Linked DNA regions of Homo sapiens. The protein of the gene in region 2 purifies or fractionates together with the protein of the main gene of each other region. This does not show direct contact. Each region holds a gene or a part of one and is shown on either strand. Other genes may lie near its edges. The genes, in order: TOX4, FGFR1OP2, SLMAP, PPP2CB, STRN4, PPP2CA and MOB4.

What was found.
Region 1: the proteins of FGFR1OP2 (region 2) and TOX4 fractionate together in Homo sapiens (co-fractionation; one large-scale study listed by BioGRID). This does not show direct contact.
Region 3: the proteins of FGFR1OP2 (region 2) and SLMAP purify together in Homo sapiens (affinity purification with mass spectrometry; 3 studies listed by BioGRID and IntAct, with this or other methods). This does not show direct contact.
Region 4: the proteins of FGFR1OP2 (region 2) and PPP2CB purify together in Homo sapiens (affinity purification with mass spectrometry; 4 studies listed by BioGRID and IntAct, with this or other methods). This does not show direct contact.
Region 5: the proteins of FGFR1OP2 (region 2) and STRN4 purify together in Homo sapiens (affinity purification with mass spectrometry; 2 studies listed by BioGRID and IntAct, with this or other methods). This does not show direct contact.
Region 6: the proteins of FGFR1OP2 (region 2) and PPP2CA purify together in Homo sapiens (affinity purification with mass spectrometry; 4 studies listed by BioGRID and IntAct, with this or other methods). This does not show direct contact.
Region 7: the proteins of FGFR1OP2 (region 2) and MOB4 purify together in Homo sapiens (affinity purification with mass spectrometry; 3 studies listed by BioGRID and IntAct, with this or other methods). This does not show direct contact.

What each region holds. Positions count from the first base shown.
Region 1 is NC_000014.9:21,483,695-21,487,194, reverse strand, and holds part of TOX4 (TOX high mobility group box family member 4), read right to left. Parts: intron 1-3,500. UniProt on the Homo sapiens protein: Transcription factor that modulates cell fate reprogramming from the somatic state to the pluripotent and neuronal fate. In liver, controls the expression of hormone-regulated gluconeogenic genes such as G6PC1 and PCK1.
Region 2 is NC_000012.12:26,958,970-26,962,469, reverse strand, and holds part of FGFR1OP2 (FGFR1 oncogene partner 2), read right to left. Parts: intron 1,956-3,500; coding exon 1,842-1,955; coding exon of another isoform or gene 1,833-1,841; exon of another isoform or gene 1,719-1,832; intron 1-1,718. UniProt on the Homo sapiens protein: May be involved in wound healing pathway.
Region 3 is NC_000003.12:57,906,309-57,909,808, reverse strand, and holds part of SLMAP (sarcolemmal membrane-associated protein), read right to left. Parts: intron 1,926-3,500; coding exon 1,803-1,925; intron 755-1,802; coding exon of another isoform or gene 734-754; coding exon 659-733; intron 1-658. UniProt on the Homo sapiens protein: Associates with the striatin-interacting phosphatase and kinase (STRIPAK) core complex, forming the extended (SIKE1:SLMAP)STRIPAK complex.
Region 4 is NC_000008.11:30,795,819-30,799,318, forward strand, and holds part of PPP2CB (serine/threonine-protein phosphatase 2A catalytic subunit beta isoform), read right to left. Parts: intron 1,937-3,500; coding exon 1,763-1,936; intron 1-1,762.
Region 5 is NC_000019.10:46,736,451-46,739,950, forward strand, and holds part of STRN4 (striatin-4), read right to left. Parts: intron 2,937-3,500; exon of another isoform or gene 2,860-2,936; intron 2,439-2,859; coding exon 2,335-2,438; intron 1,788-2,334; coding exon 1,714-1,787; intron 452-1,713; coding exon 373-451; intron 53-372; coding exon of another isoform or gene 8-52; intron 1-7. UniProt on the Homo sapiens protein: Calmodulin-binding scaffolding protein which is the center of the striatin-interacting phosphatase and kinase (STRIPAK) complexes.
Region 6 is NC_000005.10:134,198,574-134,202,073, forward strand, and holds part of PPP2CA (serine/threonine-protein phosphatase 2A catalytic subunit alpha isoform), read right to left. Parts: intron 3,449-3,500; coding exon 3,275-3,448; intron 2,502-3,274; coding exon 2,412-2,501; intron 1,935-2,411; exon of another isoform or gene 1,924-1,934; coding exon 1,762-1,923; intron 632-1,761; coding exon 513-631; intron 1-512. UniProt on the Homo sapiens protein: Catalytic subunit of protein phosphatase 2A (PP2A), a serine/threonine phosphatase involved in the regulation of a wide variety of enzymes, signal transduction pathways, and cellular events.
Region 7 is NC_000002.12:197,540,066-197,543,565, reverse strand, and holds part of MOB4 (MOB-like protein phocein), read right to left. Parts: intron 3,456-3,500; coding exon 3,413-3,455; intron 3,216-3,412; coding exon 3,129-3,215; intron 1-3,128. Other genes in the region: HSPE1-MOB4 protein, read right to left, coding at 3,129-3,215, 3,413-3,455.

The DNA.
Region 1 (3,500 bases), on a different chromosome or scaffold from region 2:
TCTTTTGTCTTAAATTATGCCTATGGTTCTAATGAAAAATTCTTTCAGTACCATTACTTAGGACATAGCCTTTATAACCTGTTTACTATGATTCTTGAAATCTCTCTCTAAAGATTCTAATAGAGCAGTTATTTCACAATTATTACATCTAAACTGTTAGGTCACAGAAATTCGCTGTCAGCCAGCCAATTATACTTTGTTGTTTTAGGTTCCTTTCAAACAGATGCTAAAATGTACTGTCATGGGAACTTTACCCCCTCTAAAATATTTGCAGAGTTTCCTACTTCTTCTCCACTTTAGAAATTATAATGTTAACAACAAATAAAGATTCCCATTAGTATAGGATTTTCAGAAAACCTCAACAATGCCAAAAATGCTAGTCTTGCTCTGACCAAGCTTCTCTCTAAGAGAGGAAAAGGATTACTCCAGTTGGCTAAAGACCCAATCTCTTCCTCTGAGTCCAACTAGGTCAATAATAACACATTCTTTCTTTTCTGAATGAGGCCACCACTCATGCAGCTAACAGACAATGTCTGATTAAGATGTGAACTGCTATGGTTCTGTTTTGACACTAAAATCTAAATGGTGGCATTTACAGCAATAGACATTTATAAATAATAGCAAGAGACTGCTGTCAGAGAGACCTGGGTACAAGACCTTGAACAAGTTTTCTTCATCTGTAAAATGGGAATTATAATGGTAATCCCCTTATATGGTTATTATGAGGATAAGTGAGATTTCATGCATAAAATCTTAGCACATTGCCTGATACATATAATGGCTTAATCACCATCATTAACCATTGTTATGAATGATAATATCCTAATAATGATTACCCCCACCCCAACCAATTATAACAGATAATTGGAATTTTAGAAACTTTAAATTCTATCAATCTAACACATAGCATAGTAAATATAAACTGATTCAGATCAAATTCAATAGGTACCAACATTTTTTTTTTTCATAATTGAACAATGCATTCTTTAAATAGAGTTCCTAAAGGTTCCTTTTCTTTTTTTTTGAGATGGGGTCTTGCCCTGTCACCCAAGCTGATCTGGAACTCCTGGGCTCAAGCAAGCCTCCAGCCCCAGCCTCCCGAGTAGCTGGGACTACAGGTATGTGCCACCACACCCAGCTAATTTTTAAAATTTTTTGTGGAGACGAGCTCTCCCTGTGTTGCCCAGGCTAGTCTCGAACTCCTGGACTCAAGTAATCCTACTGCCTCGGCCTCCAAAGTGTTGGGCTTACAGACCTCAAGGTTCCTCTAGATCCTGAAATGTTCTTCTATTATGACCATTTCTGTCTTTTTTTTTTTTTCTTTTTTTTGAGACAGAGTCTCGCTCCGTGGCCCAGGCTGGAGTGCAGTGGCGCGATCTTGGCTCACTACAACCTCCACCTCCCGGGTTCAAGCAGTTCTCCTGCCTCAGCCTCCAGAGTAGCTAGGACTACAGGTGTGTGCCACCACGCCCAGCTAATTTTTGTGTTTTTTAATAGAGACGGGGTTTCACCATGTTGGCCTCGATCTCTTGACCTCGTGATCCACCCGCCTCAGCCTCCCAAAGTGCTGGGATTACAGGCATGGGCCACCGCACCTGGCAGTTTTTTTTTTTTTTGAGATAGAGTCTCCTTTGTCACCCATGATAAAATGCAGTGGCGTGATATTGCTCACTGCAACCTCCGCCTCCTGGGTTCAAGTGATTCTCCCACCTCAGGTTCCCAAGTAACTACAGGTGCACACCACCATGCCAGGCTAATTTTTATTATTATTTTATTTTTGAGACAGAGTTTCACTCTTGTTGCCCAGGCTGGAGTGCAATGGCGTGATCTCAGCTCACCGCAACCTCCGCCTCCCAGGTTCAAGTGATTCTCCTGCCTCAGCCTCCCTAGTAGCTGGGATTACAGACATGTGCCACCATGCCCGGCTAATTTTGTATTTTTAGTAGAGACGGGGTTTCTCCATGTTGGTCAGGCTGGTCTTGAACTCCCGACCTCAGGTGATCCGCCCTCCTTGGCCTCCCAAAGTGCTGAGATCACAGGCGTGAGCCACCACGCCTGGCCATGACGCCAGGCTAATTTTTGCATTTTTTGTAGAGATTGGGTCTGGCCATATTGCCCAGACTGGTCTTGAACCCCTGGGCTCAAGCCATCACCCTGCCTTGACCTCCCAAACTGTTGGGATTACAGGCATGAGCCACAGCGCCCAGCCTCTAATTCTGGTTTAATGAAGACATTAGGCTGGGAGCAGTGGCTCACGCCTGTAATCCCAGCACTTCGGGAGGCCCAGGTGGGCGGATCACACGAGGCCAGGAGTTCGAGACCAGCCTGGCCAACACAGTGAAACCCGTCTCTACCAAAAGAACAAAAAATTAGTCAGGCATGGTGGCACACACCTATAATCCTAGCTACTCGAGAGGCTGAGGCACGAGGATCACTTGAACTCAGGAGTCAGAGGTCACAGTGAGTCAAGACTGCACCACTGCAATCCTGCCTGGGCGACAGACCAAGACCATGTCTAAAAAAAAAGAAAAAGAAAGAAAATAAAGGCCGGGTGCCGTGGCTCATGCCTATAATCTCAGCACTTTGGGAGGCCGAGGTGGGTGGACCACCTGAGGTCAAGAGTTCGAGACCAGCCTGGCCAACATGGCGAAAATCCATCTCTACTAAAAATACAAAAATTAGCCAGGTGTGGTGGCAGGTGCCTGTAATGCCATCTACATCAGGAGGCTGAGGCAGGAGAATCACTTGAATCCAGGAGGCAGAGGCTGCAGTGAGCCGAGATTGTGCCACTGCACTCCAGCCCGGGTGACAGAGCAAGACTCTGTCTCAAAAAAAAAAAAAAAAAAAAAAAAAAAAAAAAAAAAAGACATTGCTAGAAAGAAAATTTCCAGCTAGCAGAAACTAGGGAGAAAAAAGTGTGCCTGTGAAATGCCCAATCTCTGAATCACATTTGTAAAAGTTTCCTAAAAGACAAAAAGATATATGTACAGTTTCCCTTCTCCTTACTATTTTACTTGGTATGGTAAAAAATCTGGTCGTTGTCTGAGATATAAGTAGCACACGGAGCATAAGAACACACAGTTCTCAGCTGGTAGTGGTGGCTCACACCTGTAATCCCAGTACTTTGGGAAGCCAAGGTGGGTGGATCACTTGAAAAGTCGGGAGTTCGGGACCAGCCTGGCCAACATGGAAAACCCCATCTCTACTAAAAATACAAAAATTAGCTGGGTGTGGTGGTGTGCGTCTGTAATCCCAGCTACCCAGGTGGCTGAGGCACGAGAATCGCTTGAACCCAGGAGTTGAAGGCTGCAGTGAGCCAAGATCACATCACTGCACTCCAGCCTGGATGACAGAGCAAGACTCTGTCTCACACGCGCACACACACACACACAAATAACAAAAAATACCACGCAGTTCTTGATGGGAAAAACTGAAACTTTCCCCAAGAACTGAACTTTTCTCAGTAGTACACAAATCATGTATTTATGTATGTTGTTTTG
Region 2 (3,500 bases):
CTGAGAGGTATTTTATCATATTAAGCCTAAGACTTAAATATAAAAGTGAATAACTCCCCAAATAAACAGTCTCTTCAGTAGTTGTGTATATATATATTTGTAAAAAGGATTTAACAGTACTCCAAGAAACCCACGGAACTAATAAGCTGGAAGAAATGACAAGGTAGTATCTTTGGCAAAGCACATTTAATAACCTCTTAACCAACAAAAATGTAGGTCCTTTTCATGGGGAAACCTATACACTGCTAGTACTCAGCAAGAAGGTACTCTAAAAGGCTAATCTGTGCTGTCCAAAACAATGTTAAACTTAATTAAAATCAATACATTTTTAAAAATTAACAATTCAGTCCCTCAAACGCATTAGTGACACTGCAAGTGCTCAACAGCCACATGTGGCTACTGGCTTCCACACTGGACAGCACAGATAAAAAACATTCCAATCATTTCAGAAAGTTCTACTGGATAGTTTTGAATTAGATTATGGTAGGAAGAATGATATTAAGACAAGTATCTGTCATATTCTGCAAGTTAACCATTAAAATTCCTCCCATTGTCAAGGAAGCATAATATGTAAAAGCAGGTTAAGTACAGATCATTGCAGCTGCAAACTGAGTAAGGGTAATGAGTAAAAACTTTGAATACCAACAGCATCCTCAATTTATGATTTGGTCAGTCCTATGGCACTGACCTAAGTTAAAAAACTACACAGAAAGCAAGCATTTCTTTTTTTTTAGACAGAGTCTCGCTCTTGTTGGCCAGGCTGGAGTGCAATGGCACGACCTCGGCTCACTGCAACCTCCCACTCCCAGGTTCAAACAATTCTCTTGCTTTAGCCTCCCGAGCAGCTGGGATTACAGGCACCCGCTATCACGCCTGGCTAACTTTTTGTATTTTTAGTAGAGATGGGGTTTCACCATGTTGGCCAGGCTGGTCTCCAATTCCTGACGTCAGGTGATCCACCCACCTCAGCCTCCCAATTACAGGCATGAGCCACCATGCCTAGCTGAAGCAAGCATTTCTTTGCCTTTAAAATAGAAGGAAAAAAACTACTGATTTTTTCAGTACCAAGTCTAACAAAGCTCATCATGAGAAAAAACCCAATACTTCAAATAGGGCAGCACTTTTATAAAAGGTCATGGTAATGGTTCACTTATTTAATTATAAAATCTTCAGAGAAGTATCACAGATTTTTTAACAAGCACAAGAGGCAAGATCTGTGCTTTCAAAACTGTCTGGAAGACAAGAAGTGTCACCAACATAACCCTTGAACTGTCTTGAAATGTCTTTCATTTCTAACTCCCTGTCTAGGTTTATTCCTCCTTTATTCAATAAAGACCTGCCACAAGTGAGTTAAAAAAAAATTAAGACACAATGGAGAGAGCACTACTATACTTAATCCTAACATCTAAACAAAGGCATTTTAATTTCATTTGCAAAATCAAAGGACTACAAACTATCCACAATCTGAATTAAAACATTTAATACTTTGACCTTATGAAATCAGTTTAAAATTAATGCCAAGAAAATATCTTTGATGTCCAGAAAGGAAATGACTGTTTCACAGCAACAACTAACAAGAGCAAATAAATAAAGCGTTGGACTGAATAACCTATAAAACCTGCAAATATCTAACAGGCTGTACATGATACAATACACAGAAAATTAATGAGAGATTTAAAGTTTCTACACTGAACAGCATGGCTATTAAAGACACAACATTCTTTTAATAAATTTCATTTATTTGCTGATCTAATCTGGGAGGGAAATTCAATGTAAAAGCACTTTTAAAATGGACCCCCCTTCCATCCACACCCCAAAAGTTGACTGTTTATTTAGTGTACATTCTGATTTGCTTCCAAGTGCCTTCTCTCCAGTCCATGTTGAGGTGCTTCAAGGATGTGTCGAGATGCATCAAGGAAGAATCCTTCGGACTTGTTACGATGTACCATGTCAATCTGTAGTATAGAGTCATTATAATGTTAATACGGATATCATCCGTAATTTAAAAACTGAATGAGTGTTAGTTCATGCGTGTTAGCCAACTGTTTGAAATGTTTGCTTTTTTAAGATTTCCAAAAAGGCATCTGTTCAAAAATAACATGAAAATTAGTATTTGGGTAAAAATGAGCTCTCAAACTTTCTACTGATTTTTTAAGTATGTGCTCAAAAACTTCTAGTTAAGGGCAAAGTTCTGTATTATAACAGTCTCAAAAGGATCTCTTACTCCAATCCAAAATGCTGTTATGTGTAACTCTGTTTCTTAGCTCTAAATGTGTTGTAAAATTACTTTTGTGTTTAGGCATATCAGAGCACTAGTACCTAAACACACCCTACAATACCATACTTTTTGTGCTTTTATTATACAAGTTTCTCTGCCCACCCACCCACTTCTGCTTGTTTACCTACCTGCCCATAATTAATTCAAGGCTGGACTGAGACAGACTTTCTTCCCTTCCTTGTTACCTTTCCAGATTTTCCTTATGACAGTTAATATTGTTCCCTCTAGCGTTCCAGTAACAATTCATCTACTTTGGGATTCATCACGCCCTACCTTATAGTAGATTGTTATGTTTGTGTCTGTATCTCCCACTATACTGCAAGCTTGTACATTCATCTTATTATTTCCCATAACTAACCCAGTGCCAGTATTAATGTTTGTTTAATTAAGTCGAAGTGTCTCCTTTTTGGGAAAAATCAAAATCACAAACATTAATATGTATTAGTGAAAATTAATAACAAATAACTGAATAGTCATTTTATGGGAGGCAAGGATCATCTGAACTTAGATGAAGAATTCAATCTACATAATAAAAAAGGATGGCTTACAGCTATCTTAGGAAATGTTTAACCTTACTAATTAATAAACCAGCTCTGGTGAATAGTAAAATCTAATATATTTTAGGAAACATTTGCTTCTGTCATAGTTGCTACCAGATGGGACCTGCAAGCTATAGTTATCCTATTCTAAGCACTTTTTTTGTAATGGTATTCTTCGCTTTAGATCTTTAACATTTTATTTTTAGGTTATAAAACATACAAACCTTTTAGAAATTCTCAAGATTATATTTATCTTACAAATAATATTAAGTCAACTCCTTTTAGTGCCTTTAAAAAGTCTTAGTTACTATAGTTATTATTATACCTTTAAATTTAAATGATTTTAGAATGGTCTCATTAACAATAGTTAAATTTTGTATTCAAAAGATCACCACTTAAACATCCCTGGATTGCCATTTGATTAGGAGATGAATAGCATAATTAGAAAACATTAAACACAAATTTTTAATTTAATTTATTATTTTACTGGTTGACACAAGAGGTACCTATCATTAGGTTTTCTAATATAATAAAGGCATATAAAGAGCTATTTGATAGGTATTTAATTCTAATAGAATTAATTACTAATAAGTTAAAAACACGTACAAGCACCAAAATGGAAGAAGTATTTTAAAGAATCTAAAATGTGTTTCAATAATAGATAAATATGAAAATATGTCCTT
Region 3 (3,500 bases), on a different chromosome or scaffold from region 2:
GAAACCCCATCTCTACTAAAAATACAAAATTAGCTGGGTGTGGTGGCGCATGCCTGTAATCCCAGCTACTCAGGAGGCTGAGGCAGGAGAATTGCTTGAACCTGGGAGGCGGAGGTTGCAGTAAGGTGAGACCGCGCCATTGTACTCCAGCCTGGGCAACAAGAGCGAAACTCTGTCTCAAAAACAAATAAATAAATAAAGCTCCACCAAGAGCCGTGTTGAAATGTGAGGTTCTAGAGAATCAAAGCCATGAAAAATGGGGACTCTCTGCCTTCTTACTTTCCATTTCATTTTTTTTTTTTTTTCTGAGATGGAGTCTTGCTCTGTCACCCAGGCTGGAGTGCAGTGGTGCAATCCCAGCTCACTGAAACCTCCACCTCCCAGGTTCAAGCAATTCTCCTGCCTCAGCCTCCCGAGAAGCTGGGATTACAGGCATGCACCACCATGCCCAGCTAATTTTTGTATTTTTAGTGGAGACAGGGGTTCACCATGTTGGCCACACTGCTCTCGAATTCCTGACCTCAGGAGATCCACCCTTCTCGGCCTCCCAAATGCTGGGATTGCAGGCATGAGCCACTGCGCCTGGCCTCCATTCCTTTTGAATCACTAAAAACAAACACACAATAACAATCTCAAAGAGCCTTGGGGTCTTCCATACCTTGAAGAACCTGTATTTGTTTAGTGGATTCCTCAACTTGATTTCGATAGGCTTTTCTTTCTTCTTCCAAAAGAGCTAAAAGTAAAAACACAGTATCTATTAATAGTTTTGTGAATTAATGAAAGTACTCAGAGTTGAGCAGCTGAAAATTTCTTTTAAAATTCTCTCCTAAAAGATTATTGAAAGAAACAAAAGTTAGGCAGTAAGTATTATCAGTATTAGCAGTTAGTTTAAAGATTTTAGGAGCACAGAACTGTAGTAAGTAATAAATCTATTCAACTGAGTAGTGGAGTTTTCTGGACCTGGTATCACCAAGACAATATGTGCTTTTCTTAACATGAGAAACAGTCTTGATAATTGTTAATCAGCATTTTGAACTTAATTTTTTAAAAAGACTTAAAATTCTTATATTTACTGTCAAGCACATAGTAAACACTAAACTAAATAATTGCTATTTACCAAATATTTTTTCATTGTAATTTAATATATTAGCCTGGATCCTCCAAAAGGTTCAAGTTAAGTGAATACCAATTCTAATTTCTTTGAGAATTAGGAAAGGAAAGAAGTAGTAACAAGAAGTTCCTAGTTCCCTCCTGGGATGTAAATCTTCCTACTAGGCAGGAAGGCCATCTTGGAGAACATGAGGGCTCCAGAAGTCATTCCCTTTCTCATTTTAAGACTCTTTGAGATACTAATTGTCTGCAACCAGGTAGTTACTATGAATGATACAGAAATGTAAGCTCTAGGGAACTGCACAGACTCCACTGGCTTATGACCTATAGATAAGTGAGCTACTAGAAAAGAATGTGGCCAGGACATTAGCTAACATTAGGCATAATAAAAATTTAGAAATTTGAGTTTTCCTTCTGTTGTACTTAATATGCAATTAACTATTAAGATCTTTCAGTTAGTAAAGATCTTACTTGATTTTCACATCAACAGTGTGAAGGTAGAGCAACTGTAACTCTCCTCATTTTACTGACCTGAAACACAAGTTTAGAGAGGTCAAGTAAATATACCAAGATCACATATCTCATAAAGTTGTGAATCTGGAACATGCCTCCGGACTCCAAGTTTGGGGCCACCCAATTATATTGTGCTGCCTCCACACATCCCTAAAGAACCAAAGTAATCTTGATCTCACCTTGAAGTTCAAAGCATTTTTGTTTACTTGTTCTAGCTAGCTCCTGGGCTTCGATCAATTCCTTTCGAAGATGCTGTATTTCTTGCTTTGCCTCAATTTCTGACTGTGCACCCTGCAAGTCATCTGACAAAAACATGTTTATTTTAAAAGCAAGAGTTAGTATCACACTATAATCTACAATAAAAGACTGGTAATCTCTCTCATGTTTGCACATGCATAAACAACATAGAACAACTGAGTTAAATAAAACTTAGAAGCAAATTATAGTAAGCATTTTAGTAGTTGGGAGAAAATACAAATACAGTTATATATATTAGTAATCATGGTGATGACATTATAAAAATATATTAACATAAATTATATATTCACAATTCTAGCATCAAAATAAACAGACAGTGACAGATTATAACTCATTGCTTATTAAGACTTGAAATTCAGTGAGATGAGCAAAATGCTATACTTCTTCATCAATTTTGAAATTTCTTGATAACCAGTCAGAAAAATTTCACTTGGAACTTAACTGGATATGGAAAACAAAAAGAAACTTTTCTTCAAGTAACAGCTAAATTTTAGCACAATTACCCTAGTTGTGGAACACAAAATAAAAACTAGGCTGAAAGCTCTACTGAGCCTACTTTGTCATCATCATTTCCCCAACACGCACATATAACAAATATCTGAGCTGGGCGTGGTGGCTCATGCCTGTAATCCCAGCACTTTGGGAGGCTGAGGCAGGCGGATCACGAGGTCAGGAGATCGAGACCATCCTGGCTAATACGGTGAAACCCCGTCTCTACTAAAAACACAAAAAATTAGCCAGGCGTGGTGGCAGGTGCCAGTAGTCCCAGCTACTTGGGAGGCTGAGGCAGGAGAACTGCTTGAACACAAGAGGCAGACGTTGCAGTGAGCCGAGATCGCGCCACTGCGCTCCAGCCTGGGCAACAGAGTGAGACTCTGTATCAAAAAGAAAAAAAAAAACCGCAACAACAACAAAAATCTGCTGAATATATTAAATGATGTAACCTAAGTGGTTTTACCGAAATAAATTAAATCCAGCATTCTATTTCAAATATGCCCCTTCCCCTAAACTCCTTCCTCTCCAATCATTCTGCTTTTTAATTTTTTAAAACCTTCTGCTACTGAACACTGCCTGAAATAAATATATCATCAGGTAAGCCATATTGTTCTAATGAATTCTATTTGAGTATCACCTTGGTTTATAAGTACCTCAGCATAATAACTTCAATTCATCAAAAAAGAGCTAAGAATAACTTTCACAATACAATTACAATAGGTTTTGGAAATTATATATATATATATATATATATATATTTTTTTTTCATATTCATAGATTATATCCTATTTTTCTCTCTAGAAAAATTGTATTCTGGCCTAGGCGCGGTGGTTCATGCCTGTAATCCTAGCACTCTGGGAGGCTGAGGCAGGCAGATCACTTGAGGTCAGGAGTTTGAGACCAGCCTGGGCAACATGTGGAAACCCCGTCTCTACTAAAAATACTAAAAATTAGCTGGGCGTGGTGGTGCGCGCCTGTAATCCCAGCTACTCAGGAGGCTGAGGCACGAGAATTGCTTGAACCTGGGAGGCAGAGGTGGCAATGAGCCAAGATCGCGCCACTGCACTCCAGCCTGGGCGACAGAGAGTGACTGTGTCTCTAAAAAAAAAAAAAAAAAAAAAAGA
Region 4 (3,500 bases), on a different chromosome or scaffold from region 2:
AAGCTGCACCTGTTCTTGTGATACACGAGCTCCTGCATAGTTATAATTATGCCTTATTTCATTCCTAGTGTTTTATGTGCCTTCCATCTTTTCTTCTAGATCAGTTTTGTTCACTATTATTTCTTTTCTAGTAACTTTTCAGAAAGAAAGGAAGGAAGGAGGAAGGGAAAAATATATAAAAGCTCTACTAACGCACCCATTTTAAAAACTAGATACTTCATTAAAACTGATAGGCTGTCTTTTAAAAATCATTCTGTCCAGCAATTTTATTATTAATGAAGACTATGTTGCTTCAAAACAATTAAAAACAACCTTAATTAAAATTTAACATCTTTTAAATTCACATTTTCTTTTAACAAGTCCAGGCAAAGTATCGTCCTTTCAAATTAATCACGGCAGTGTCCAAAATCATGGCTGAGAAAAAAGACTGTCAGGATTACACAGGGAAAGTTATAACCAAATTATATTCCCACGAGCAGTCTAAGAGAGAATTTATTACATTCTTGACAACTCTGGGCTTTCATAATTTAAGAATTATGGAGTTTTATTATATGTTTTATATTTATTTATTTTATTTTTTGAGATGGAGTCTCACTTTGTCACCCAAGCTGGAGTGCCGTGATACGATCTTGGCTCACTGCAACCTCTGTCTCTCTCAGGTTCAAGTGATTCTCCTGCCTCAGCCTCTCAAGTAGCTGGGACTGGGACTACAGGCATGCAATGCCATCCCCGGCTAATTTTTGTATTTTTAGTAGAGATGGGGTTTCACCATGTTGGCCAGGCTGGTCTCGAACTCCCTACCTCAGGTGATCCACCCACCTTGGCCTCCTAAAGTGCTGGGATTACAGGTAGGAGCCAACTTGCCCGGCTTTTGTTTTATATTTAAATTTAAATCAGTTCATGCTTACAGTGATTATCTCTAGAAATTGAAATAGGAAATTTGCATAATTTCTTCTTATACTTTTGAATGTTTCATGACATGTCTGCACTACTTGTTACAGCAAATGCAGAAATAGCATTTGCTTCTATTTTCTTTTTTTGTTCTTTGAGATGGGGTTTTGCTGTTGCCCAGGCTGAAGCCCAGGCTGGATCACGGCTCACTGCAGCCTTAACTTCCTGGGCTGAAGAGATCCTCTCACCTCTAGCTTCCTGAGTAGCTAGACCACAAGCACGCGCCACTATGCCTAGCTAATTTTTAAATTTTTTTTTTTGTAGAGACAGGGTCTTACTACATTGCCCAGGCTGGTCTTGAACCCCTGAACTCAAGCGGTCCTCTTGCCTTGGCCTCCCAAAGTACTAGCCACTGTGCCCAGCCAAGCATTCACTTCTCAGGGAAGGTGTAATACACAATATAACATTTGCAGTTACCATGAAAATAGAAATGAAAAGTTATTCATGGTAACCAGCAGACACTGCATGTATATGCAGAGATAGTTTTAAATAACATCTTGCTTTGCTAGTACTATACATCAGTGTCTTAAACATTTATTTATAATGTTTATCGATATCTTAAAAAGCACAGCATATTCTTTGGTTAAAAGATTTACATACATATCTGAGAACAACAGGAAAATTTGCTGGTCCAAATGTATGTGAAACTTATCCACTTCCCTGCTTTGAAATTTTAAGTATAAGGGAAGGAGGAGGAAAAGGCCGAGGAGATGCAGAAACACAGGTCATATGAATCTAGACCCCAGCTTACCAATAGTCAATCTCTGCTTCCATTTACCTCCTCCCAAGATGTAAGCACACATATACATACCTGTCCATCTACTAAAGCTGTAAGTGGAAGATAATCAAAGAGATCTGTAAAATATTTCCAAACGTTGGCATTCCCATACTTTCGCAGACATTCATCATAAAAGCCATATACTTGGGTAATTTGTCGGCTTTCGTGATTTCCTCTCAATATTGTAATGCGTTCTGGATAACGCACCTGGAAGAAAAGGAGTAAAACCCATAGTAAAATCACATTTTTACTAGTGTCATGTGAAGTACACCAGTCTCTGACCCATTTTTAAACACGGCGCTTTTGGCCACCAGTATATTAAATGTTAATTTCAGTTTCAAAATAAAAAACTTGCTTATTCATAACCAGGTCTTACTGGTTAACATTTGACGTGTTTATTATAATCATCCTTTTTCATCAGGTTTCGACAACCCTCATCAGAACCTTTAACTAATACTTATATTACTATAATAAACTTGTATCTGATACTTTGCTTCTATTATCTTCATCATCAAATTATTACTACTTTCCTAAATCTTTCTAGAACACTATGACTTCTTACTGCTGAATGAGTAGTGAAAATCACAGGTTTGAAGCTGAGACAAACTCTACAGATTAACTTCTTCCCTTTTCAATTTTTATTTCCCACAGGAAGATTGGATTTGCCAATAATAACACAAAAACAGGCCCTTGACAAAACTGGGCAAGATTTCAAATGTATTAATAGTTTCCTTTCTATTAAAAAACATAAGCGACTATTTAGTTAGGAATGCATCTGATAAGAAATACGAAAAAGCACTGGATTCTGCAAATTAAGCTAAAAGCTGCAAGTATGTACTTCAATTCATACATATTTTACTAAGCATCCGTTATGTGTCTAACGTAAGTTTGGTGCTATAAAGCCAGATGCCAGATCTACACAAGTACAGTCATGTGCTGGGCAGCATTTTTGTTAACAGATTACATGTACGATGTTGGCTGGAGCAAGAGACTATACCATTACAGCCTTTGTGTGCAGTAGGCTATACCACCTAGGTTTGTGTAAGTTCCAAAGATGACAAAATCACCTAATGGCACATTTCTCAGAATGTATGCCTGCAGTTAAGTGACCCATGACCATGTAATATATGGCTTCTGCTGTTGAGGGACTAACCTCACTAAGGACATATGTAAAATAATAAGTAATAGAAGGCAATAAGCCACTTTTGCAGCATAAATAAGGGCTGGGAGAATAAGTTTCCTCATAGTAATTTAGAGCAGAAGGAATAAGGCTAAAATGGTTGAAGGTTACATGGAGGAAGTGAGACCTGAGCTGAGTCTTGGCAGAAAGGTAAGAAATCAGGGACAGGATAACCTCGTGGGGGAAATCGACTATGGAAATAAACAGAGTCCAGAGCACTGAATAAGAAGAAACTTTGATTTGAGCCAGAGTTTATGCTACCAACCGCTGGCAGGCAAAAATTCAGACTAGACTATAGAAGGCCAGGCAAGGAGTTTGAATTTGATTCTATAGGCAACAGGCAATCAACAGGAAGTAACAATATAAAAGGGTTAAATAAGAGATTTCATCGGCCAGCGTATGCCAGGTGGATTTGGGGGGGATCAGATCTTGGAGGCAGAAATATTAGTTACTAAGCTATTGTAACAATCGAATTGTGAAGTGATAAACTGTGTGAAAATAGAAAGAGACAGGAACAACAGACTTTTCAAAGCAAGGATTTAAAAAGACTTGTCTACTGACTCAATATAACGGATAAGTGATAAAGTCAAA
Region 5 (3,500 bases), on a different chromosome or scaffold from region 2:
ATATTACCCTTGGGAAATAAAAAGCCATGCTTCATAAATCTTCACAAGGTATCTAAAAAAAAAAAAAAAAAAGCCACACAGGGCTCCTATGGCCACTGAGACAAAAAAAAAAAAAAAAAAAAAAGCCACAGAGGCATTCAGGGACACATTCCAACAGGGGTGTCCCCACGTCTGCCTCCTGCAGCGGGTTTCCCTCCCTCTCCCCAGGCCAGGCTCCGCCCACAGGGTGAAAGCCATTCCAGCCATGGCTGGCTAAGATCCTGATAGTTCAGCATCCCCAGTGGGGACGGAAAAGGACTGTGGAGTCTTTGGACTTATCTCTCAAGCCAAACGTGTCACGTGTCCCCAGCCCCCCTCCCCGAGCACACTCACTGTCGGAGAAGCTGCCGCCCCTCCTTCCACACCAACGGGCTGTTCTCCAGGGTGACCGATTCCACGGGGCCATTGGAGACTGGCGGGTGAGAGAACGGAGGCTGTCTTAAGTCAGGCCACTGCCACCTACCCATCACCTCCTCCATCTTCCTCACCCCTCCAACCCAAATCGGTCACTGTCGCAGGTCCTGTGGCATCACTTCCTGAGTGTTGGAACCCTGCTCTCTTCCCTTACTCGGGGATTCCTCCTCCTTGAAGCGTTCCTCATCTCTAGGTCTCCTGACTGGTGGTTCCCCAAACTGGCCCCCGACAAGATAAGGGTGTTATCTCAAAACCAGAAAGCTGGCCTGGTTCTGAGAGAAGGGCCGACTGGGTTCAAGCCCAGCTCTGCCCCATCCCAGCTGTGTGACCCTGAGTTAGTGTAAGCCGTGTCAGTTTCGTCCTCTGAGAAATGAGCTTAATGATAACAGCATCTCCCTCTTGGGAGTGCTGAGAGGATGCAATGAGATAATTTGCTTAGTATTTTATTCAAGTCTTTCCTGGGCATCTACGCTGTGCCTGGCCAGGGGCCTGGGCTACATGGGTAAACAAAGACCTGCCCTTGTGGAACTTCCGTTCTAGTGAGAGGAGCTGGCAGCAGGTAATGACCATCACTATCAGCTGAGCACACAAGGTCTTCTCAGCTTGCCTCGGCCAAGCTTCCCCCTCACCCAGCCCGCCCTCCCACATCCTCTGCCCTACACTGTTTGCCCAGGCACACTGACCGACTCCCTGTCCCCTAACCCTTTCAGCGTGCGTCTCTGTATCTGTGCTCTCTCCCCTGACTCTCCTGCTGGGGAACGGAGTCATCTTTCAAGGAGCTTAGACTCTAAGGGACCAGAGGGTAGAGACCATGTCTCCCGTGCTCTCTGCTGTATTCCTGATCTGTGATACAAAGCCTGTACCCTACAAATAAAGTCTTTTTTGGATGAACGATTGAACGGCAACCCTGTTCAAACGCCACCTCCTCAGTGACGTCTTCCCCGGCTTTCCCGCACCGTCCCCAGCACTCTATAAATAGCCCTGGCGCCCACTCCTCGCAAAGGGATCCCGTGAGCTGCTCGTGTGTCTGCCTCTGTTGCACAGGGGGACCCAAGCGGGACTGGCCCCCAGGGTCCAGCACGGGACCTGGCAGCCCATAGGGAGGGCTCTGAGAGTGAGATTCCGCCCCTCCCCAGCCCCGGGGCCGATTCTGCCTTCTAAGGAGCAAAGTGAGAAAGAGGCACCCCATCTTCCTGCTTCTCCAGAACACTCAGCTTCTGCGGGAGGGTGCCGACAGTGCGAGCATCAGAGGGTGGGTACCTTGTTCTGACACATCTGCTTTCTTCTCCCCCTGGTTCAGGTCTGTCCCAAACTTCAGTTTATGATATTTGGCCCTAAAAGAGCAAATGATTAATGAATAAGAGATGCGGGAGAGTAGACAGGGTCAGTAGTTACCTAAGGAATCCAGAATCCCAAACCCCAAATCACAGGGCCTCCCCCAGCTCGTCTACTACTGAGGCTGAAGCATCCCCCCACACCCCTGGCCTGGTGGAAGAAACCACTCCCTGGAGTCAGGCAACCTAGGTTGCTCTCAGGGGTCCTTGAGGAAACCATCAGCCCTTGAAACCCCAGTTCCTTATCTGAAACAGGGCTAACAATACCCGTTAGGCTATTGGAAGGTATAAGGGATAACGGAGGTAAGGACTATACGATATTTGGCGCACAGTGGGCCACTAGCATCGTGAATATCGTTCCTGGTGTCTAACCCAAATCCCACCTACTCTGTCCTGTTTCTCCCCTAGAATCTTATGGTACTGGAATGATGGAAAAGAATGTCGACCCCAAATCTCCCTTAGCTGGAAGGAGGCGTGGCTGGTGGCCTCCTGACACTGTGCTTGAGACGGACCCAGAAGGCAGGCCCAGGGCAGGATGAAGGCTCACCTTTCCTGCTTCAGCGCATACTCTAGCATCTTGATCCGCCGCACCAGGTCCGTCTTTAGATTCTCCTGCCCTTTCCTCTCTCCCTGAAGGAAGGCCACCTGAGCCTGGGAGGGCAGACAGGAGGCAAAGGGAGATAATGGGGCTCAGGCTCAATGCCGGTGTGTCTATCACTCACCCAGGTATAGTGCCAGCCCACAGTCACCCCACAGTAATGGGCAGCAGCCACTTCCTCAGGCACAAAGATCCCAAGCCAGGGTTCAGGGAGCACTGAGAGGACAGGATGGATCTGTTTCCAGGGCCCCCTGCCACGTCACCCACAACGAGGGCCGAAGGGGAGCCCTTAACCCCTGAGATAACAATGGGGCCAGCCTGGGCCTCACCTGGTGGCTGCCTTTGGGGGGAAGTCGGGTCAGGGATGGCAGTGGAGAGGAGGGTGGGCATTCACCGCCCTGGACTACCCCTGACGCCCTCTGGCAGGTGCTGTCCCTAAGGCTGCTGGTGGAGGTGGCGTCCCACTATTCTTACCAGAGCATCTGTCTCTGGGAGGCGTGGGAAGCTACTTCTGGAGCTTAGGGACAAGAGTGGGTGGCTCGGCTCGGCTCCTGCTCCAATAGAAAAGCTTTACAAGCCAAGCCCGCTGTGGGGACCAGCCGTCCCACTGCATTCCGCCCAGGGTGTGAGAGAAATGTGCCACAGACACGACCCCGGGTTCCTGCCAAGCACTTCACACCGTCTGCTGGCTTGAGCTGCCCCGTCTGCTCCAGTCTGTCAACAGGTCATTTGGAGACACTGGGCCCACTGCCTTCCAGGCAGGATCCTGGCCCCTGACCATGGTCCAGAAGCTCTTCTGCCAAAGCCCTGGCCCAAGGCTCATCTCTGGCTTCTCCCCAAGCACCCCACCGTTCCAGCCCAGAACAGCCAGAGCCCAGGCCCAACTTAGACACTTACTCGCTACATGATCTTACGCAGGTCATCAGCCTTCTCTGAGCCTCCATTTGCCCCTCTAGAAAATGAGAGTCACAAGAGTGCCCTCCCCTCATGTGCTAGGTTCTGCTCAGTCAAGGCCTGGCACAGAATAAAGGCTAACAAATGCCAGCTTCTACTTCTTTCATCATTTTTATTCTCCCTGTCCATTGTTCGCAACTTCGAAATGGGCCCAGTTCCTT
Region 6 (3,500 bases), on a different chromosome or scaffold from region 2:
ACACTTTTTTGAGACGAAGTCTCGCTCTGTTGCCCAGGCTGGAACGCAGTGGCGCGATCTTGGCTCACTGCAACCTCTGCCTCCCGGATTCATGCCATTCTCCTGCCTCAGCCTCCTGAGTAGCTGGGATTACAGGCAGGCGCCACCATGCTGGGCTAATTTTTGTATTTTTAGTAGAGAAGGGGTTTCACCATGTTGGTCAGGCTTGTCTCGAACTCCTGATCTCAGGTGATCCACCCGAGCCTTCCAAAGTACTGGGATTACAGGCATGAGCCACCGCGCCTGGCCCCCTTAAACTCTTAAACCTCACATTTAAACTATGTATTCAGGCTGGGCACTGTATCTTATACTTGTAACCCCAACACTCTAGGAGGCCAAGGTGAAAGGATCACTTCAGCCTAGGAGTTCGAGACAAGACTGGGCAATATAGTGACACCCTCTCTCTCAAAATAAATAAACCAAAACCCTACATATTCAGTAATGCAAGAAAATGTTCAGGTAGAATTACTTACAAAGAGTATTTTAGAGTATCGTCAAGTTCCATGATTGCAGCTTGGTTACCACAACGATAACAATAGTTTGGAGCACTGAAAATCGTTACTACATTCCGGTCATGGCACCAGTTATATCCCTGCAAGGAAAAGGAGACAAAAATCTTACTTTACTCCCTCAATTCAACTAAATGTTACTTCACTCAAGAGAGAAAAAAATCTCTACTCATTCCCACCCCTGCCAAAGGGGCTTAAGAAATGTTAATGCTTTTTTTCTGGATGACTTAATAATCTCCTGTACTTTATACAACCTGTAAGGTACACATGTATTTATTTTCCCCCTAATTACAAAACTTGTTTTTTTTTTAGTACTTTAAAAAAAAAAAGGCTTTAACAAACAGCAGCAACCACCAAAGAATGAAATACTTCTCATGTATCTGCCTTGCTGTAAATGACAATGTCTCATTAGCCTCTTCTCTTGCAGTGGCCTTAAAACATGATTTAAGAATAAGTATTTAAGTGGCCATTCCCTAGAGAAGTAGATACTTAATCCTGGAGACCAGAACCTTACCAATTTTGTCAGTCACAGGTAAAGGCCTGTTAAGTTGGTCACTGCCCAGGAACAAATGCAATATGCCTCTAGGATCTCCAGCCTCATTTCCTCAAAGTCCATCCACCTGAATGCATGAGCTACTTTTGTTACTTTTTGTTTAGTATTGTTCACAATTTCTTTACCTTTAGCAAAGTCAGATTTTATTGATAACCACAGAGTTGTACTAGTATTAATCTAATTAGGACCTTATTTTAAAAATATTCTAATCAGTGTGCCATGTCAAGAACCTTTGCCTCTTTCCCTTCTTTCAAATCACCTGTAATCCTAGCATCCAAAGGACCACTTAAAACATTTTCGTGTATTTCTTTCCAGTCTCTCCTACATACATACATTAAATATACGAAATAACATTGGGATCATAAAATATCATACATGCACACCAACTCCCTATATCTTACTTTCCCACTCTTAAATCTCAAGTACTTCCTAGTCATTCAGATTTCTCTGAAAACATGTTAATGGATTCATTGTAATCAAAAGCTTGAGCTTTTAATTCTAGTAGTGTGCATCTACTGAAAAGGCTCAGGCTATAATGATAAACTCATCAGAAGGAATAGATGGAATTTCTCACAAATGTCATTAATTTAAAACTCCCTAATATCTTCTTTCCTTAAGTTTACTAAAAAAACAAGTCATATTTCAGAGAACACAGCATACCTCCATCACTAGCTGGTGAGCTCTAGACACCAACGTGAGGCCATTGGCATGATTAAATGTCTCAGAAATATCTTGCCCAAAGGTGTAACCAGCTCCTCGAGGAGATATACCCCAACCACCACGGTCATCTGGATCTGACCACAGCAAGTCACACATTGGACCCTAAAAAATAACTTCAAGTTATAAAATGCCTTTTACAAACATGGTTAACACATTATTTGAGTAATTCATCAGAAGCAGCACCCTAAGCCACCCTTTTTGAGTGATGTTTGTGGACAATGCTAATAGACTGTGCAGTTGAAGTCAAACATCTGCATCAAATAAGATGTATTTTCCAGCAGACTTTATGAGACACAGCTGACATCCATGGGACCCAGCAGCAACATGCCCTAATTAATCTGCCTATATTATGCAAATTTCAGAGTCTAAGACAGACAACCCAGGTCCTAATAAGCCCAGCTTCACAGCTGTTGTGATCTTGGCAGGTTTCTTAATGTCAGCTTCTTTTGAACAACAGGGCAGACAAGAGTGCTCACACCTCAAGTTGTTTTTGAGAATTATATGAGAGAATACATCTAATGAACTTACAATTAAACTTCTCCACTCCCTAATAAGTTTTCTGAAAGAATTTTATCAAATAAAAGTCATACCTCATGGGGAACTTCTTGTAGGCGATCAAGTGCTCTGATATGATCCAGTGTATCTATAGATGGCGAGAGACCACCATGTAGACAGAAGATCTGAAAAGAGTGGTTTAAAAGGTTAACCTCACCTAAAAAATTTGTAAACATTCTTGGCTGGGCACAGTGGCTCATGCCTGTAACCCCAGCACTTTGGGAAGCTGAGGCAGGAGGGCTGCTTGAGGCCAGGAGTTTGAGACCAACCTGAGCAACACAGCAAGACCCTGTGTCTCTACAAAAATTTTAAAAAATGAGCTGGGCACCCCCATCACTTGGCCCCTCTGGTGTTTCTGTGCTCTGCCTGAATGAGACTTGACTTTGCAGGGTTCATCTTTGCTCCAGCCCACTCTGAACTATTGAGTACACTCCTGTTCTTCCTAATAGACCATCGCTGTCACAACCAGACTCCACTTCAAACAGCTCCTTTGAGAAAACTTCTTGGATATCACTCCTGCCCTTTGCCAGAGACTAGTATCTTCATACTCATAAAATTTTATTGTAAGTTCTTTTGTGTGCACATCTACCTAGGCCAATAATTAGCTCCTTACATCTCCCAGACTTGTCCAAAAACAGTCTGAGAGGGTAAATGGGCTACATCACCCACCCCTGTGATCCCACCATACAGTTCAGTGCCTGATATAAAGAATAATGCACTTAAAAAAGTTGGACACATTTGTCAAATTAAATTTTTTTTAAGTTTGAATGAATGCTATCAATATCTATTAAAAAATATCCCCAAAGGGGTGTTAAGAGTGGAAAGAGTCATAAGCACCTGAACACTAAAGAAAGCAGATTCTCTGAAATAATCAGCAATGAGTTTTAGATCCACATACCTGCCCATCCACCAAGGCAGTGAGAGGAAGATAGTCAAAAAGATCTGTAAAATATTTCCAAACATTTGCATTTCCATATTTTCTTAAACATTCATCATAGAAACCATAAACTTGTGTGATCTGTCTGCTCTCATGATTCCCTCGAAGAATGGTGATGCGTTCACGGTAACGAACCTAAAACAATAAAATGCAAAACATAAACAACTAGCTCTTTCAAAAACCAATG
Region 7 (3,500 bases), on a different chromosome or scaffold from region 2:
GGTTCATCTGTGTTGTAGCATGTATCAGAACTTCATTCCCTTTCATGGTTTTATAATATTTCATTGTATGTCCATGCTACATTTTGTTTCTCCATTCTCACGGTGGTTTTTTTTTTTCCCTTATCAAGCATGGTTGTGGAGGAGACAATGTTAATCAGCATAACAATAACGCACAACCCTCGCACCAACTGTCTGTGGTTTTGAGATGTGCCTTAATAACTAATGTTGAGCATCTTTTCATGTGCTTACTGGCCATTTCTGAATCTTTTTTTGAGACATGGTCTCTCTCTGTCACATAGGCTGGAGTGTAGTGGTGTGATCTTTGCTTACTTCAACCTTGAGTCCTTGGGCTCAGGTGATTCTCCCACCTCAGCCTCCCTAGTAGCTGGGACTACATGTGCACACCCATCACACTCAGCTAATTTTTTGTATTTTTAGTAGAGATGGGGTTTCACCATGTTGGCTAGGCTGGTCTCGAACTCCTGACCTCAGGTGACCCACCTGCCTCGGCCTCCCAAAGTGCTGGGATTACAGGCGTTACTGTCTTCGAAATCCAGTATTTATTTTGTGTTTACAGCATATTTCAATTTTGACTACCCACATTTCAAGTGCTACACAGCTACATGGGGCTCATGGGTTACCACATCACTGTATCTTTAGACCTTTAACTGGTTTCTGAATTTTTAATTTGGATGACATTTTGCATTGTTTTTAGCTGCCTTCCCTTCACCTTCCCCCAGTTAATTCTCAGGTAACTATTCCTACTCTGTAACAGTTATAACAGCAAAAAATGGCAAAATATAGCAGGTTACAAAATACTATGTAATGGTGTTTACAAATTTTTATGTATTATATTTTTCCAAATATATAATCATAATGCTACTGCAAGTGATCACAATCAGCATGTGACTGTGAGGGCTTGTAGACAGTAAGTTATAATGTTTGTCGCCTAGAAGCACTATTTGTATAATTTACTCTATATGCTGAATGCCTCTCTTTAATTCTCAAGGATACTGAATAAATGATTATTGGTGCTAAGTATTCTGCTGCTCCCACTTCAGAATCTCCCTAGTGATTTTAATCCATGAGAGCAATTTTCTTAGCTTAGTTTGTCAGTTCCTATAGTTTCCTGACTAAGCAGTTATTCAAAAACAGTTCAGAAAGTGTCCTTTCAAATTGTTCTTTTGTTTGTATTTTTACAGTAACTCCACTCAATATAACTACCACTTGGAAATCCTACTATCACCCTCCCTTGACACATGGCCAGTTCAACAGATCTGGACTTCAGCAAGCAATGCTGCAATTCTAAGACTCAATTTACAGGTCTTAATGCTAATGACTATCCTGTCATTTAATATTAATCAAGAAAGAAGTGGATATGAGAATGACAGTATATTTAAGAGTCATAACACATCACAAACTGGATATCACTTCCACTCTAAAGAAAGAATAATACATCATTACTATTTGCCAAAACAAAACTAGCCTTGATTCAGCCTTCTTGATTCAGTTTCCTAATTGCAATAATCACATCATTCACTACGTTAAGTAGCCAACTTCAGTGAATTATCAATGAAACCACTATGTGGATTTTCCCAGATGTAGACAGATACAATCTTTTTATTTTTTTTATTTTTTATTTTTTTTGAGACGGAGTCTCGCTCTGTCGCCCAGGCTGGAGTGCAGTGGCGGGATCTCGGCTCACTGCAAGCTCCGCCTCCTGGGTTCACGCCATTCTCCTGCCTCAGCCTCCCAAGTAGCTGGGACTACAGGCGCCCGCCACTACGCCCGGCTAATTTTTTGTATTTTTAATAGAGACGGGGTTTCACCGTTTTAGCCGGGATGGTCTCGATCTCCTGACCTCGTGATCCGCCCGCCTCGGCCTCCCAAAGTGCTGGGATTACAGGCGTGAGCCACCGCGCCCGGCCGACAGATACAATCTTAATACTGCTTCAATTAATTAACATAAAAATGTGACATCCTGAATGAAACCAGTCTTCCAAATAAGTACTATTCTCTTAGGTATCAAATACTCCTTATTTTGGAGCATTTGTCCTTTTTGAAACAAAAAACATCAGATATTGATTTTGCAACTAGGGCCTCACTTGTCTTCAAGCCTTAGAAGTCTATCAATATAATGACCACTTCAAGGTCTATGATTCTACAGAATTGGCCTAACCCAATATCCCCAGTGAGTCAGTGTCAAGTAAAAAGTAATTATAACAGATTAAATGGGAATACAGATTAAGGGAAAAGCAATGCATAAACAACCCAGATGTAAAGACCATTTTGGAGACAACTAAGGAAAAGTATACTGGGTATCAGATGATATGAAGAAATTTTTTAAATAAGAAAAAGTACAGTAGGCCAGGCACAGTGGTTCACACCTGTAATCCCAGCACTTTGGGAGACTGAGGTGGGCAGATTACTTGAGGTCAGGAGTTTGAGACCAGGCTTGCCAATATAGCAAAACCCCATCTCTACTAAAAATATAAAAATTAGCCCGGCATGATAGCGCATGCCTGTAATCTCAGCCACTTGGGAGGTTGATGCATGAGAATCTCCTGAATCCGGAGACAGAGGTTGCAGCGAACCGAGATCATACCACTGCACTCCAGCCTGGACAACGGAGTAAGAATCCATCTCAAAAAAAAAAAAGAGCAAAACAAAAAACTGCTACTGCCTATAGTCTTACCTTGACAAAAACTAAATAAGGAGAAAAACAACATGAATATTTAAAAGCTCAAAAGTAACATTTCTACTTAAACTAGGCATCAGAGTAATCAATAGTTCTTCCTATCAAAAGAAATAATCTGAACAAAAACCTAAACAGGCGTATCTCAATCATTACACAGTAGATATCAGCACAATGTGACAGATGTTAATCCGTAATAGCCAGTGGATCATGAAGTGAGTTCTAGCCCATGTAATTGCCCAATTATGAAAAATGATGCTTATCATAAGAAATCCTAAAATAGCACTGCAGTAACAACTTCACAACAAGCAACTCAAAATGAAATAGCAAAATGAACAGTGAACTAAAAACCCTAAAAACTTGTCTAACATTGTCTTGAGAGAGATTTAGGCTATAATAATTTTATTAGTTACTCTATTTCATAAATCCTCACCTCTTTTGGAGTTTTATGAGCTGCACAAAGAAAAATCCATTGTTCAGTTGCTGTCATTTGAGTGCAAGTATCTGGATGGCATTCACTCTGTTAAAAATAATTATATTTCTTAATATGTAAAATAATAATGAAAAAGCTTATCATTTAGGTTACTATATTTCCATAATAAATTCTAGAAGAAAGTTAGAAATGTGGATACGTTTTTGTAAGCACATTAAGTTATAAAAACAGAGAAAAAAAAATCAGAACTTTCAATTATAACTTTGACTTAAAGAAAATATTACCTGAAGTTTGACAGCAAGTCCATTTAGCTCAAGGCAGAACTGCCTGAAAATGCAAATACATAAATAAAAAGTCATATCTATTCTTCAC